Linked DNA regions of Homo sapiens. The protein of the gene in region 2 interacts with the protein of the main gene of each other region in a pairwise test. Each region holds a gene or a part of one and is shown on either strand. Other genes may lie near its edges.

Evidence for each region.
Region 1: the proteins of NGB (region 2) and C1orf94 interact in binary tests that used the Homo sapiens proteins (3 or more experiments, as listed by UniProt).
Region 3: the proteins of NGB (region 2) and OTOS interact in a two-hybrid assay, tested with the Homo sapiens proteins (one large-scale study listed by BioGRID).

The regions. Positions count from the first base shown.
Region 1 is NC_000001.11:34,200,712-34,204,438, reverse strand, and holds part of C1orf94 (uncharacterized protein C1orf94), read right to left. Parts: intron 3,668-3,727; coding exon 3,407-3,667; intron 2,356-3,406; coding exon 2,180-2,355; intron 1-2,179.
Region 2 is NC_000014.9:77,264,983-77,268,206, reverse strand, and holds the end of NGB (neuroglobin), read left to right. Parts: intron 1-1,536; coding exon 1,537-1,671; 3' UTR 1,672-2,724; downstream 2,725-3,224. UniProt on the Homo sapiens protein: Monomeric globin with a bis-histidyl six-coordinate heme-iron atom through which it can bind dioxygen, carbon monoxide and nitric oxide.
Region 3 is NC_000002.12:240,138,486-240,142,159, reverse strand, and holds OTOS (otospiralin precursor), read left to right. Parts: upstream 1-1,501; 5' UTR 1,502-1,540; exon of another isoform or gene 1,541-1,655; coding exon of another isoform or gene 1,656-1,676; intron 1,677-1,715; 5' UTR 1,716-1,797; coding exon of another isoform or gene 1,798-1,833; coding exon 1,834-1,891; intron 1,892-2,071; coding exon 2,072-2,098; intron 2,099-2,805; coding exon 2,806-2,990; 3' UTR 2,991-3,134; downstream 3,135-3,674. UniProt on the Homo sapiens protein: May be essential for the survival of the neurosensory epithelium of the inner ear.

The DNA.
Region 1 (3,727 bases), on a different chromosome or scaffold from region 2:
TTCTTAGGTCACCTTTCATCACAACCTCTCACCTCCACAATGGGGTGTGAGCTTTCCCTCCCTCGGGAGGGGACGGGTACTTGTTCTCTTTAGCAAACACACACACAAACAAAAAGCTTGAAAACAAAACAGAGAGAGACTTTGCTAAGTTCCTTTAAGATTCAGAAACTAAGCCTGGTGGACCAGCTTGAAGAGTCTTTATATGCAGAAGAGCCAATCCCCTTTCCCAATAGGACATAAGGTTTGTGCTGTGTTGAAAGGGAAAGAATGACATAGGGTTCCTAGGAGTGGAGAGCGGGGAAGGGACATAGCAACAGGACAAGCCGAGTTGGAAGTATTTCCTTCTTTGCTTTCTCACTTCAGGCTGTGCTGGGCCAGGCTGGGGCAGCAAATTGCCAAGGTCCTGAGTGCACAAATTTGAGTTCCTGCCCTTCCCCATACAATGACATACAATTCTGGAGAGAAGCCAGTGCGAGGAACAGAAGACAGAAATCTTAGGCATGGAGAATCTTTCCTGAAAAAATTGAGTTCTACCTAAAGGGACTATTTAAGTTATTGGATTGGGCTAAGGCTTAAACCAGAGTGGACATTTATTTAATTTTTCCCTCCTTCTACCCAGTGGGCGGCAGCTCTTAAGGGATATTAAGTTAAATCGACAAAATAAAGAAACTACATTTTCCCTGCATAAATAAGTTCTGTGAGTAGAATTTCCAGCCCTGCTACAGGTGCTTCACTGTCCCTTTGTGTCTGGCCATTGATTTTCTCCTTTAGCTATGATCCCAAGAACAAGAATGTGTGCCAAGCCACCTTGGTTGGTACAAAGCTAAGACTGCTTGGTGTAGTTTAAGTAAGGTGGCCATATACACTCATTCCACGGTATCCTCAGAGGATTGGTTCCAAGACCACCCTCCCTCCCCTGCCCTGTGGATACCAAAATCTGAGGATGCTCAAGTCCCTGATATAAAATGACATACAAAGATGCTCAAGTCTCTGATATAAAATGGCATTTGAGGGCCGGGTGCGGTGGCTCACCCCTGTACTCCCAGCTCTTTGGGAGGTGGAAGCAGGTGGATCACATGAGGCGGGGAGTTCAAGACCAGCCTGGCCAACATGGTGAAACCCAGTCTCTACTAAAAATACAAAAATTAGCGCACATACCAGTAATCCCAGCTACTTGGGAGGCTGAGGTAGGAGAATCGCTTCAACCTGGGATGCAGAGGTTGCAGTGAGCCAAGGTCATGCCACTGCACTCCAGCCTGGGCGATAGAGTGAGACTCTGTCTCAAATAAAATAAAATGGCATATGAGGATGATCTAGTCCCTGATATACAATGACATATAAAGATGTTCAAGTGCCTGATATAAAATGGCATATGAGGATGCTCAAGTCCCTAATATAAAATGGCATAGTATTTGCATGTAGCTTATGCGCATGCTCCTGTATCCTTTAATCTCTAGATTACTAACAACGCCTAATAATGTACTATGTAAATAGTTATTATACTGTATTATCTTTTACTCGCATTATTTTTTGTTGTTGTATTTTGTTGTTGTTGTTGTTGTTTTCTTCTTCAAGTAGTTTCCATCCAAGATTGGTTGAATCTGTGGATTTGGAACCCATGGATACAGAGGGCTGACTGTAATTTGTTGTCCAAACCAGGACACTTGAGAGTGAAAAGGGATGCCATTCATATTATTCTGGAACAGAAGACCTAAATTGGGACTGTCCCAAATAATCTGGGATATATGTCATCCAACTTCAAAGGAAGTCACAGGAGAGAGGTGGGAAACAAGGACTGTGACATCATCTTCTCCTGGGAGCCCAAGCACTTAACCAGCCACAACTAGCAAAGAGACTCTGCAATAAAGAGCACAGTGTGAACTGGAATTCGGACAATGGAAAGTTAGGACTAAATATACATATGTGTGTGTGTGTGGAGGTGTGCGCACGCATGCACATGAACCAAGGGGTAGATCTGATGTGACTACAATGAAAAAAATAACCAACAAGCTGACAAGTTGACAGCGCCCTTCCATAGCCCCAGCGAAGCCTCTTGCATGTAGGGAAGGGATTCAGAGGAGTCTAAAGACTCTGTGAAATAGACCCCCTGCCAGCCACTCCTTCTCTGTGGCCAAAACCCCCGTGGATGTCCACAGGAGAGCCAGGCCAGCTCACTGACCTGATACTGCAAGAAGGTAGAGTGATTCGTGAACACTGGTGGAGGTGGATAGTTCAGGTTGAGCCAGAGTGGCTGGTTCAGGGTTGCTGAGGTCATGGCTGTAGGAAAGTGTGGAGTGAAAACATTCCCTGTGTACTTCGGGTTGTTCTTGTCAGCAACCGTCACAGGTGCGTTAACTGCAAGTCACAGGAGAGGCAAAGCGGGTCAGTGATGGAGGCAGGGAGAGGCCAGGACACCTTCAGCATCGCAACTTCCTTAGGGATTCACAGTCTCACAGGTCAGGTCCTTTAAGCTCCAAGAGGGTTCTTCAAAGTTCTAGTACATTTCCAACTATAGGTAAACATCATTAGTTCACACCTTGCCAGTTTGGAAGGGATGAAAATCCCAGAAGGTCTGGCTTGGAGCTTTTCTTTCCATCATTCACTAGTAAAGAAGGCAATTTAGCAAGGGAATACAATAAGCCAGATTGCTAGGCCTATATTTCACCTACTTACAAAATGAAATTCTTTCAACTGCTTTGGAAAAATCCAACTTTATGTGAACCATTGCTATGCCATTGGAATTCATCCTTATCAAATGATTAAAGCAGCCCCTCCCTAAGGACATATATTTGGCAACACTAAGAAACTTTCACAGGTTGTTGTATCTATATGGGAATTTTAAAAATTATATTTTAAAACATTAAATAATTCAGCATGCAGTGACTCAAAATTGGTCTAAACAAATGAAGTTAGGTTGAGTTGTTTCAAGATCAGAATCCTGGATTCTTCCTTTCTACAAGATGTTGTGGGGGCTTATAAAATCAGAAATGGGTCCTCAGTTTCCCCTTATTGGCATCCTTTTGGGAAAAGAGGTTTGACTAGAACCCTTGTAGGAAAAGAAAGCGGGAACATAATCTCAATATAGAAATAATCTAAAGCAAGGATCTTTTGTTTTGGCTTGGGCAATTTGAGAGGATATAATACATGCTGGGTCAGGGCTATATTCAGAAGTGACCATTAATAATGCTGACGTGACCCTTGAAAGCCAACTACACTTCTCTAGCAACTGTATTCCCAACAAGGGATATGGGGAGAAAGTCATTGCCCCCATTTTATGGGTTTAAAAACTGACACCTCTAGAAAGGCAGTAGATAAGACAGCCACTTGGTGACAGAGCCACCCTGAAGCCTGTGAGGGTCACTGCAACCCCCTCCCCTCCAATCCCTCCCTGGGTAGGTCAGCTCACATTTCAGCTCCGGCCCATCCACTTCCACTTTGTTTCGAAGTCTCGGCTGCCCGCTTGGGTTCTTGGTGGCCCCAAGGAACTCATAGAGCAAGTTCTTCTCGGCTGGACATGTAGGTTTCTTGGGCGGCAGGGTCAGTGATGCGGTGCCCACTGCGTCACAGCAACCCTCCTCACCACAGGCGTCCTTCTGGCTCTGGGGCCACTGGCTGAGAAAGAGGCTCCCTTGACCCTTTTTTGGCTCCTTGGTGCCAGGGCTCCATTCTGTAGCAGGAAAGAAACTGAGTCAATGCCTCTGGAAGGCCAAGTGCTGGATGCTGGAAG
Region 2 (3,224 bases):
TTCTATTGCTATGTATCAAACAACCCTAGAACTATGACAATGCTTTCCGATTTCTCATGGCTGGGCTCAGCTGGGCAGCTCTTCTGCTCCACATGGTGTAGCTGGAGTTACTTGTGTGTTATGTTTAGCTGGGAGCTCAACTGAGGCTAGAATGTCCAAGGCCTGTCAGCCTTTGAGCTCTGTCCCTGTGATTTGTTGTCATTCACTAGTCTAGCTGAGCTTCTTTATAGAATAGCAGCTGAGTTCCAAGGGGGAGTTTTTAGAGGACAAGCCCCAGTGTGAAAGTGCCTATAAAGCCTCTGCTTGCATCACTTTTGCTAATGTCCCATTGGCCAAAGCCACTCACATGGATAAGCCCAGTGTCAATGTGGGAGGACCCTACTCAAGGGCATGAATCCTTGAGGTGTAGCCCACTGGGGGCGACTGATATGACAGTACACCACACAGTCCAGTCACCTTGCCAGATGGTGAGCACCTTGAGGAAGGAGCTGTGTTGGTCTTGTCCTCCTCTCCATCCCCAGCACCAGCATAGTGCCTGATCTACCAGGGCTACAGTGGATATTCAGTTAATATTTGTGAGATAAATAAACCTTATTTTATTATGAGTAATAATGGCAAATGAGAGCCATTATCTTTATTTATTTATTTACTTACTTATTTATTCTGGGGACAGAATCTTGCTCTGTCGCCTAGGCTGGAGTACAGTGATGTGATCACAGCTCACTGCAGCCTCAACCTCCCAGGCTCAAGTGATCCTCCCACCTCAGCCTCCCTCATAGCTGGGACTACAGGCATGCACCACCATGCCCAGCTAATTTTTGTATTTTTGGTAGAGATGGAGTTTTCCCATGTTTACCAGGCTGGTCTCAAACTCCTGGGCTCAAGTGGTCTGCCCACCTCAGCCTCCTAAAGTGCTGGGATTATAGGCGTGAGCTACTGCACCTGGCCTATTATCATTGTAGGTTTCCTGTATACAGATGCTGTGCTAAGAGCTTTTTCTGGATTATCCCATTTAATCATCCCAACAGGCCCAGGAGTTGGAGCTTCTACTTTCCCTGTATCACTGATGAAGCAGCTGAGGCTCAGAGAGGTTACATAACTTACCCAAGGTCACCCAGCTGATGAAGGGTGGAGTCAGAATCTGTACTCAGGTCTATCTGGCTCCAGAGCCCAGGCTCTTAACCCCATCATTGCTGCCTTGCAGATGAGGAAACTCAAGTCTGGGAGCAATGACTTGGTTTGGTCTAAGCTGGGAGGTCCCAGGCAATGTCTTGGCCCCACTCATGGGGTGGTTGCAAGACCAAGACAGGGGTGAAAAATGTGAGGATATAAAGCCTCACATTTAGAGGGAAAGGTAGACACAATGTGATACCCAAGGATTTGGGTAGGACCCTGCTCAGGAAGCATGGACTCAATGCAGGAGAGGAAAAAAGGCCCAGGAGCCCTAATCAGTCCTAGGCCTCAGTTTTCTCACCTGTGGAATGGAGCAGTGCCTTTCTGCCTTTGGAAGTGACAAGGTGCCCCTTGCCTCTGCAGACAGTGGGTGAGTCTCTGCTCTACATGCTGGAGAAGTGTCTGGGCCCTGCCTTCACACCAGCCACACGGGCTGCCTGGAGCCAACTCTACGGGGCCGTAGTGCAGGCCATGAGTCGAGGCTGGGATGGCGAGTAAGAGGCGACCCCGCCCGGCAGCCCCCATCCATCTGTGTCTGTCTGTTGGCCTGTATCTGTTGTAGCCCAGGCTCCCCAAGCTTCCCTGCATCTTGGTCCTTGTCCCCTTGGCCACACTGGAGAGGTGATGGGGCAGGGCTGGGTCTCAGTATCCTAGAGTCCAGCTGCAGAAGGAGTGGCTTTTCCTCCAGGAAGGGGCTTCTGGGTGTCCCCTCATCCCCAGTAGCCTCTTTCTTGCGTTTCTTTTTACCTTTTTTGGCACTCCCTCTGACCCCGCGATGAGTGTTTTGGTGGCAGAGGTGGGATGAGCTGGAAAGGTATGGAGGTGGGAGAGGATGGGGCTCTTCTGTCTGTCCTGCTTCTTCAGGTGAGTGCAGGCCAAGGCGGGGGTGAGATGGCTGAGCTTCCAGCGCCTTCTGTCCTGCCTGCCCAGTCCCTTCACTGCTTTCCTGCCCCAAGATGGCTTGCTTTTCACAAATAAAGAGAAAGAGCAGCTTTAGCCTTCTTGGTGGAATCCCAGGCAGTGGGAGCAGAATCAGAACTGCCAGGGAAGGGAAGGGGGACCTGGGTCTCAATGGGTCTCATTTGAGTCTCGCGGGCTGTGCAGATGCCCTGACAGAGTCGGTTTCCTTTGGCGGCATTCCCTTTCCCTCATTCAGCACTTCTGCTGGGAACTCCCTGACTATTCCGCTGCTGCAGGAACCCAGCTAGCTGGCCAGGTGGGGAGGGGCTGGGGACCGGCCAGGAAGGAGGGGTGACTTCATCCCAGAGAGACCCGAGTTCCCCCAGCCCTTCATCACCAACCCGCTCCTGCAGGAGTGAGTCTTACCTCCCCTGGCCCTCCTTTCTGGCTCAGCCTGCAGCGACTGTGAGGCCACAGCTCCTCAGATTCACTGCCCGCTGTGTGCCAGTACTCAGGCAGCTGGAGAGAAGAGAAGGCAGCAGCAGAGGCCCCCGCCCTCACCCCAGCCATCTGCACTTGTACCATTTGCTCTGTGCTGACTGTGGTCCTATAAATTCATGAGAAATAAACTGGTTCTGTGTGCCTCTCTGACCCTCGGGCCTGATCTTTTCTTGGGTCTTGGCCTGTGCCAGATGAAGCTGCAGGGCAGTGGATCTCAGGACAGGATGGGAGGATGGAGTCAGGGAGGCCAAGGCTGGAGTGGGTGGAACAGGAGGGAGGGGCCTGGGAGGAAGCTCTGGGAAGCCAGTGGCAGACATCTGTGGGGTCTGTGGCCCAAACTGGCTGGCAGACCACAAACCAGCTCTTCTTCCTCCTGGGCACACAGCTGGATGTCATGCAGCCACCCTTGCAATTAGGTGGGGCATGTGACTGGGCTCTGGCCGCTGGACCGTGCAGATGTGTGTGCCACTCCGAGGCCTGGTCCCCCAAAACTCCTGCATGCTCCTCCATGCTCTGTCATCCTTCTGCTGGTGTGATACAGACCTCACAGAGACCATGAGGGCCACGTGTTGAACATGGCAGAGCCACAGGTGAAAGGAGTCCTGACCCTGAATCGCTGCTTGGAGGAAGGTGCCTATTAATCAGAATCA
Region 3 (3,674 bases), on a different chromosome or scaffold from region 2:
CAGCTGAAGCCACGGAAATAAGGACCGTGGGCTTGGTTGGTAACTGGAAAGTGTGCTGCCGAATCTGCGAAAAGACAATGACGAGCGCAGAGCTTAAATTCCCAGCTCAGGGGGCAGGTGAGGAACCAGAAATCTTCTGAGCTGTGCAGGGAAGGGCGACGAGCAGGCCTGGGTCCTCACCTCGGCACCTGGATTTCAGAGGGGCCACTGCCCCTAAGCTCTATGTGCCAACAAATGGTTGTGCTAAGCACCTGCTTCCTCCTGGGGGTCGGAGATCTGCACATGCACGAGTCAGAGGGGGCTGCACGACCAGCCCTGGGCTCTGAGGTTCTGAAGGGCTCCCCTCATGGGGAGATTCCACAGGTGTCACCACAACGTGGTGCTGGGGAATGGAGAGCATCCCGTGGGGTCCTCGAGAGGATGCTGAGTCCCACGAGTCCTCCTAGGGCATCTTCCTAGTGAATCATTGACCTGGGTGCTCTTGGTGACCCCGAATACAACTGCCCTGAAAGAATCCATTGCCTCCTGTAGCCACAGGCTCCAGATTTCTGAAAAGGAAACCCAAAATCTAATCCGTGGATGGCTGCCTTACCATCTGAATTAAATTAACCACCTCTCTGGGTATCTTTGGTTAAATGTATGGCATTGTGTGGGGAAAAATGAGCCCTTAATCATTTGGATGGGGACATGTGAGCAGACTGTGATGAACTCCAGAACCATGGGACACATGGGTGAGGAGCTTCCCAGAGTCCTTAAACAGCCCCCAGGGTGACCAGGAATGACAGGGGAGACCGCCACAGCAAATTCGGCCCCTGATTCAGTGGGGTGGCGGGACCCCAAGGAGCAGGACCAGGAGGAGGCTCTATGTACTGGAAAGACAGGTCAGCATAGGAACCGATGTGGTCAGTGGGGCAGCTGTGTAGTCAGAATGGCCCTGCCCACAGAGACCCTTGGTGCTGGCTGCTGGTGTCCCAGGGTGGGGACAGCCTCCTGCCCACCTACAGACTGACACTTTGGATCGCAGGGAAGCTCCCACCTGGAGATGGAAGTCCATCTTGACCCCACACTTTCTGCTGGGGCTCTGCTCAGTGGACGTCCTGCAGGCAGGTCCCGCTGACGGGGGCTCCTCCTGCCTGCTGGTTTAAGTGGAAGCAGCGCTGGAATTATTCAGCTCCTCCTCACGAGGGAGGAAATCTCAGCCAGCCCCGGTATTGGACGTAGGATCGCTCCTTGCGGAGAGTAAACTGGGTTTGTTTCAAGTACCAATGCTGAATTCAGTCCTAACAATTTCAGAAATGGCCGAGCCAAGATGTTTTTCTCTCAGTTTGAACTTTGGATCAGATTCCCAGAAATTGACACTCTGATTGTGCCTGCCAGCAGGGCGACAGGAGCCCACAGTCCTCCGGTGGGGATGAAATATTCAGTTTGACTGTTCAGGCAGGTGACGTGTCCTTCCTCATCTGCAGCCCTTCTATAAAGAGGACTCTTGAGCTGGCAGCAGAGCCCATCCAGGCAGCACGGCTGGCTGAGCAGAGACAAGGTAAGCTCTGGAGAGGCCAGGCAGAGTGGAGGGGGGTGCAATTTCTTAAGTCATGGGAATTAAGGCCAATTGAGGCAGGGATTTCACCTCCAAATAGTGGTTTGAAACCACTGAAATGGAAATTGCTAGGAAAACAGTAAGAATTTTTTTTTTAAATCCATGCCATTTTCCCCAGGGCTGCCCACACTGGGACTGGTAGAGGAAGCCGGCCCTGACGGATGGGTGGTCTCGCCCTTCCTGGGTTCATCCTGCTGCAGGTGGGCCTGAGTCGCAGATCAGGAAGCACCGGGAAGATGCAGGCCTGCATGGTGCCGGGGCTGGCCCTCTGCCTCCTACTGGGGCCTCTTGCAGGTGAGGGGCCGCTCTGGAGGGAGGCAGCCACCAGGACCCCCGACAGCCCTCCTGTTCTCTCCCCTCCCGCATGCATCCCCAGGCTGCTAGGAAACCTTAGAGCCCTGCAGCTGGTGTCGGGTGGGCCCAACCGGCACCTGGGTGGTCCTCCTGGGTGACAGCTCTTCTCTTCCTTTGCAGGGGCCAAGCCTGTGCAGGAGGAAGGAGGTACCGTTCTCCAATTTCTTTCCTTTCATTTGCATAAGTAACTGGTATGCAGCGGGGAGAAACTGCTGGGGAGAGCAGCAGCTTCTTATCCCAAGCAGACGCATCAGGGGCCCTGGCTCAGCTCAGGCCCAAGCATGGAAAACATGGCCCTTGAGAGCCAGCTTGGAGCTGTGCAAGCAGAGGGTCTATGAGCTCCTTCCAGCTGGGACCCTGCCCTCCAGCCACCAGGGAACACACTGGGCAGGGGGAGCCAGGGCCCCATGACCCCTGACATTCCCACTATCAGACCTGGGTTCCAGCCCCCAGGCCCTCCCAACTCTGAGCCCTAGCTCAGTCCAGTATCTTCAGGGCTGCTCTTGCCCAAGCTTTAGGACAGGTTATACGGGGGGTAGCGGAGTGGGGTGTCTGTGCTCTGTTCTGAAATCCCAGCAGGTGGCTGCTGGTGCCCCACACCCTCCCCACACAACTCCTTCCTCAAACAGGACAGGGCTTCCCTCCCTCTCTTCCCCTTCTTCTTCTTCCTCTGTCTCCCCGACCAGATATCCCCAAGGATCTGAGAGGGGATGGGCTCAGGCCCCCACTCTGGGAAGGTTGTATCACTGTAGGTAGAGCTGGGAACCATCCACTTGCCTTGAGACCTCTGAGGATGGTGTCTCCAGGCAGGACCATGGGGACAGCCCCCAAGGCAGGTGTCTTGTGTCTTTCAGACCCTTACGCGGAGCTGCCGGCCATGCCCTACTGGCCTTTCTCCACCTCTGACTTCTGGAACTATGTGCAGCACTTCCAGGCCCTGGGGGCCTACCCCCAGATCGAGGACATGGCCCGAACCTTCTTTGCCCACTTCCCCCTGGGGAGCACGCTGGGCTTCCACGTTCCCTATCAGGAGGACTGAATGGTGTCCAGCCTGGTGCCCGCCCACCCCGCCAGGCTGCACTCGGTCGGGCCTCCACAGGCATGGAGTCCCCGCAAAAACCTGGCCCCTGCAGGAGTCAGGCCTGGTCTCACGCTCAATAAACTCCGGACTGAAGATGCACAACCAGCGTTGTGGGTTGTCTTTCAAGGACAGCTGCGCTCAGGCCCCACTTACTTTATTTCACAAATGAAGCTGGTTTTATTTTGATTCCTGGGGAGCACTTTCATAAACTCTTTCATAAATGTGCAACATTTCCATCCACATTGGCATCAACAAGGGATTTTATATCCTGGGCAGGCTCAGGACTGGCTTTCTGTGTCTCTCACTCATCCATTTCCCACAATGATCCTAGGGGGCACTGCAGTTCCCCCAGATTACGGGTGAGGAAACTGAGGCAGAGACATGCGGTCACAGCCTGACTTGTTAAGGTCACACAGCTGGTTAGGGGGTAGCTAGATTCTAGTCCAGGCACCCCCGCTCTGGGCCACTAAGCTGGGCAGCACACAAACCCACAGTCAGGGCTAGGCTGACTCCACACCATGACACACCCCTGGGAGCAGTGCCCAGGAGGCAGCAGGAAACGGAACTGAGAAACCCCACCTGTATCTGTCATCGGTCAGGGACAGCGGGGCCTGGGCAGGCTCTGTCTTCCAGGGACGGCTC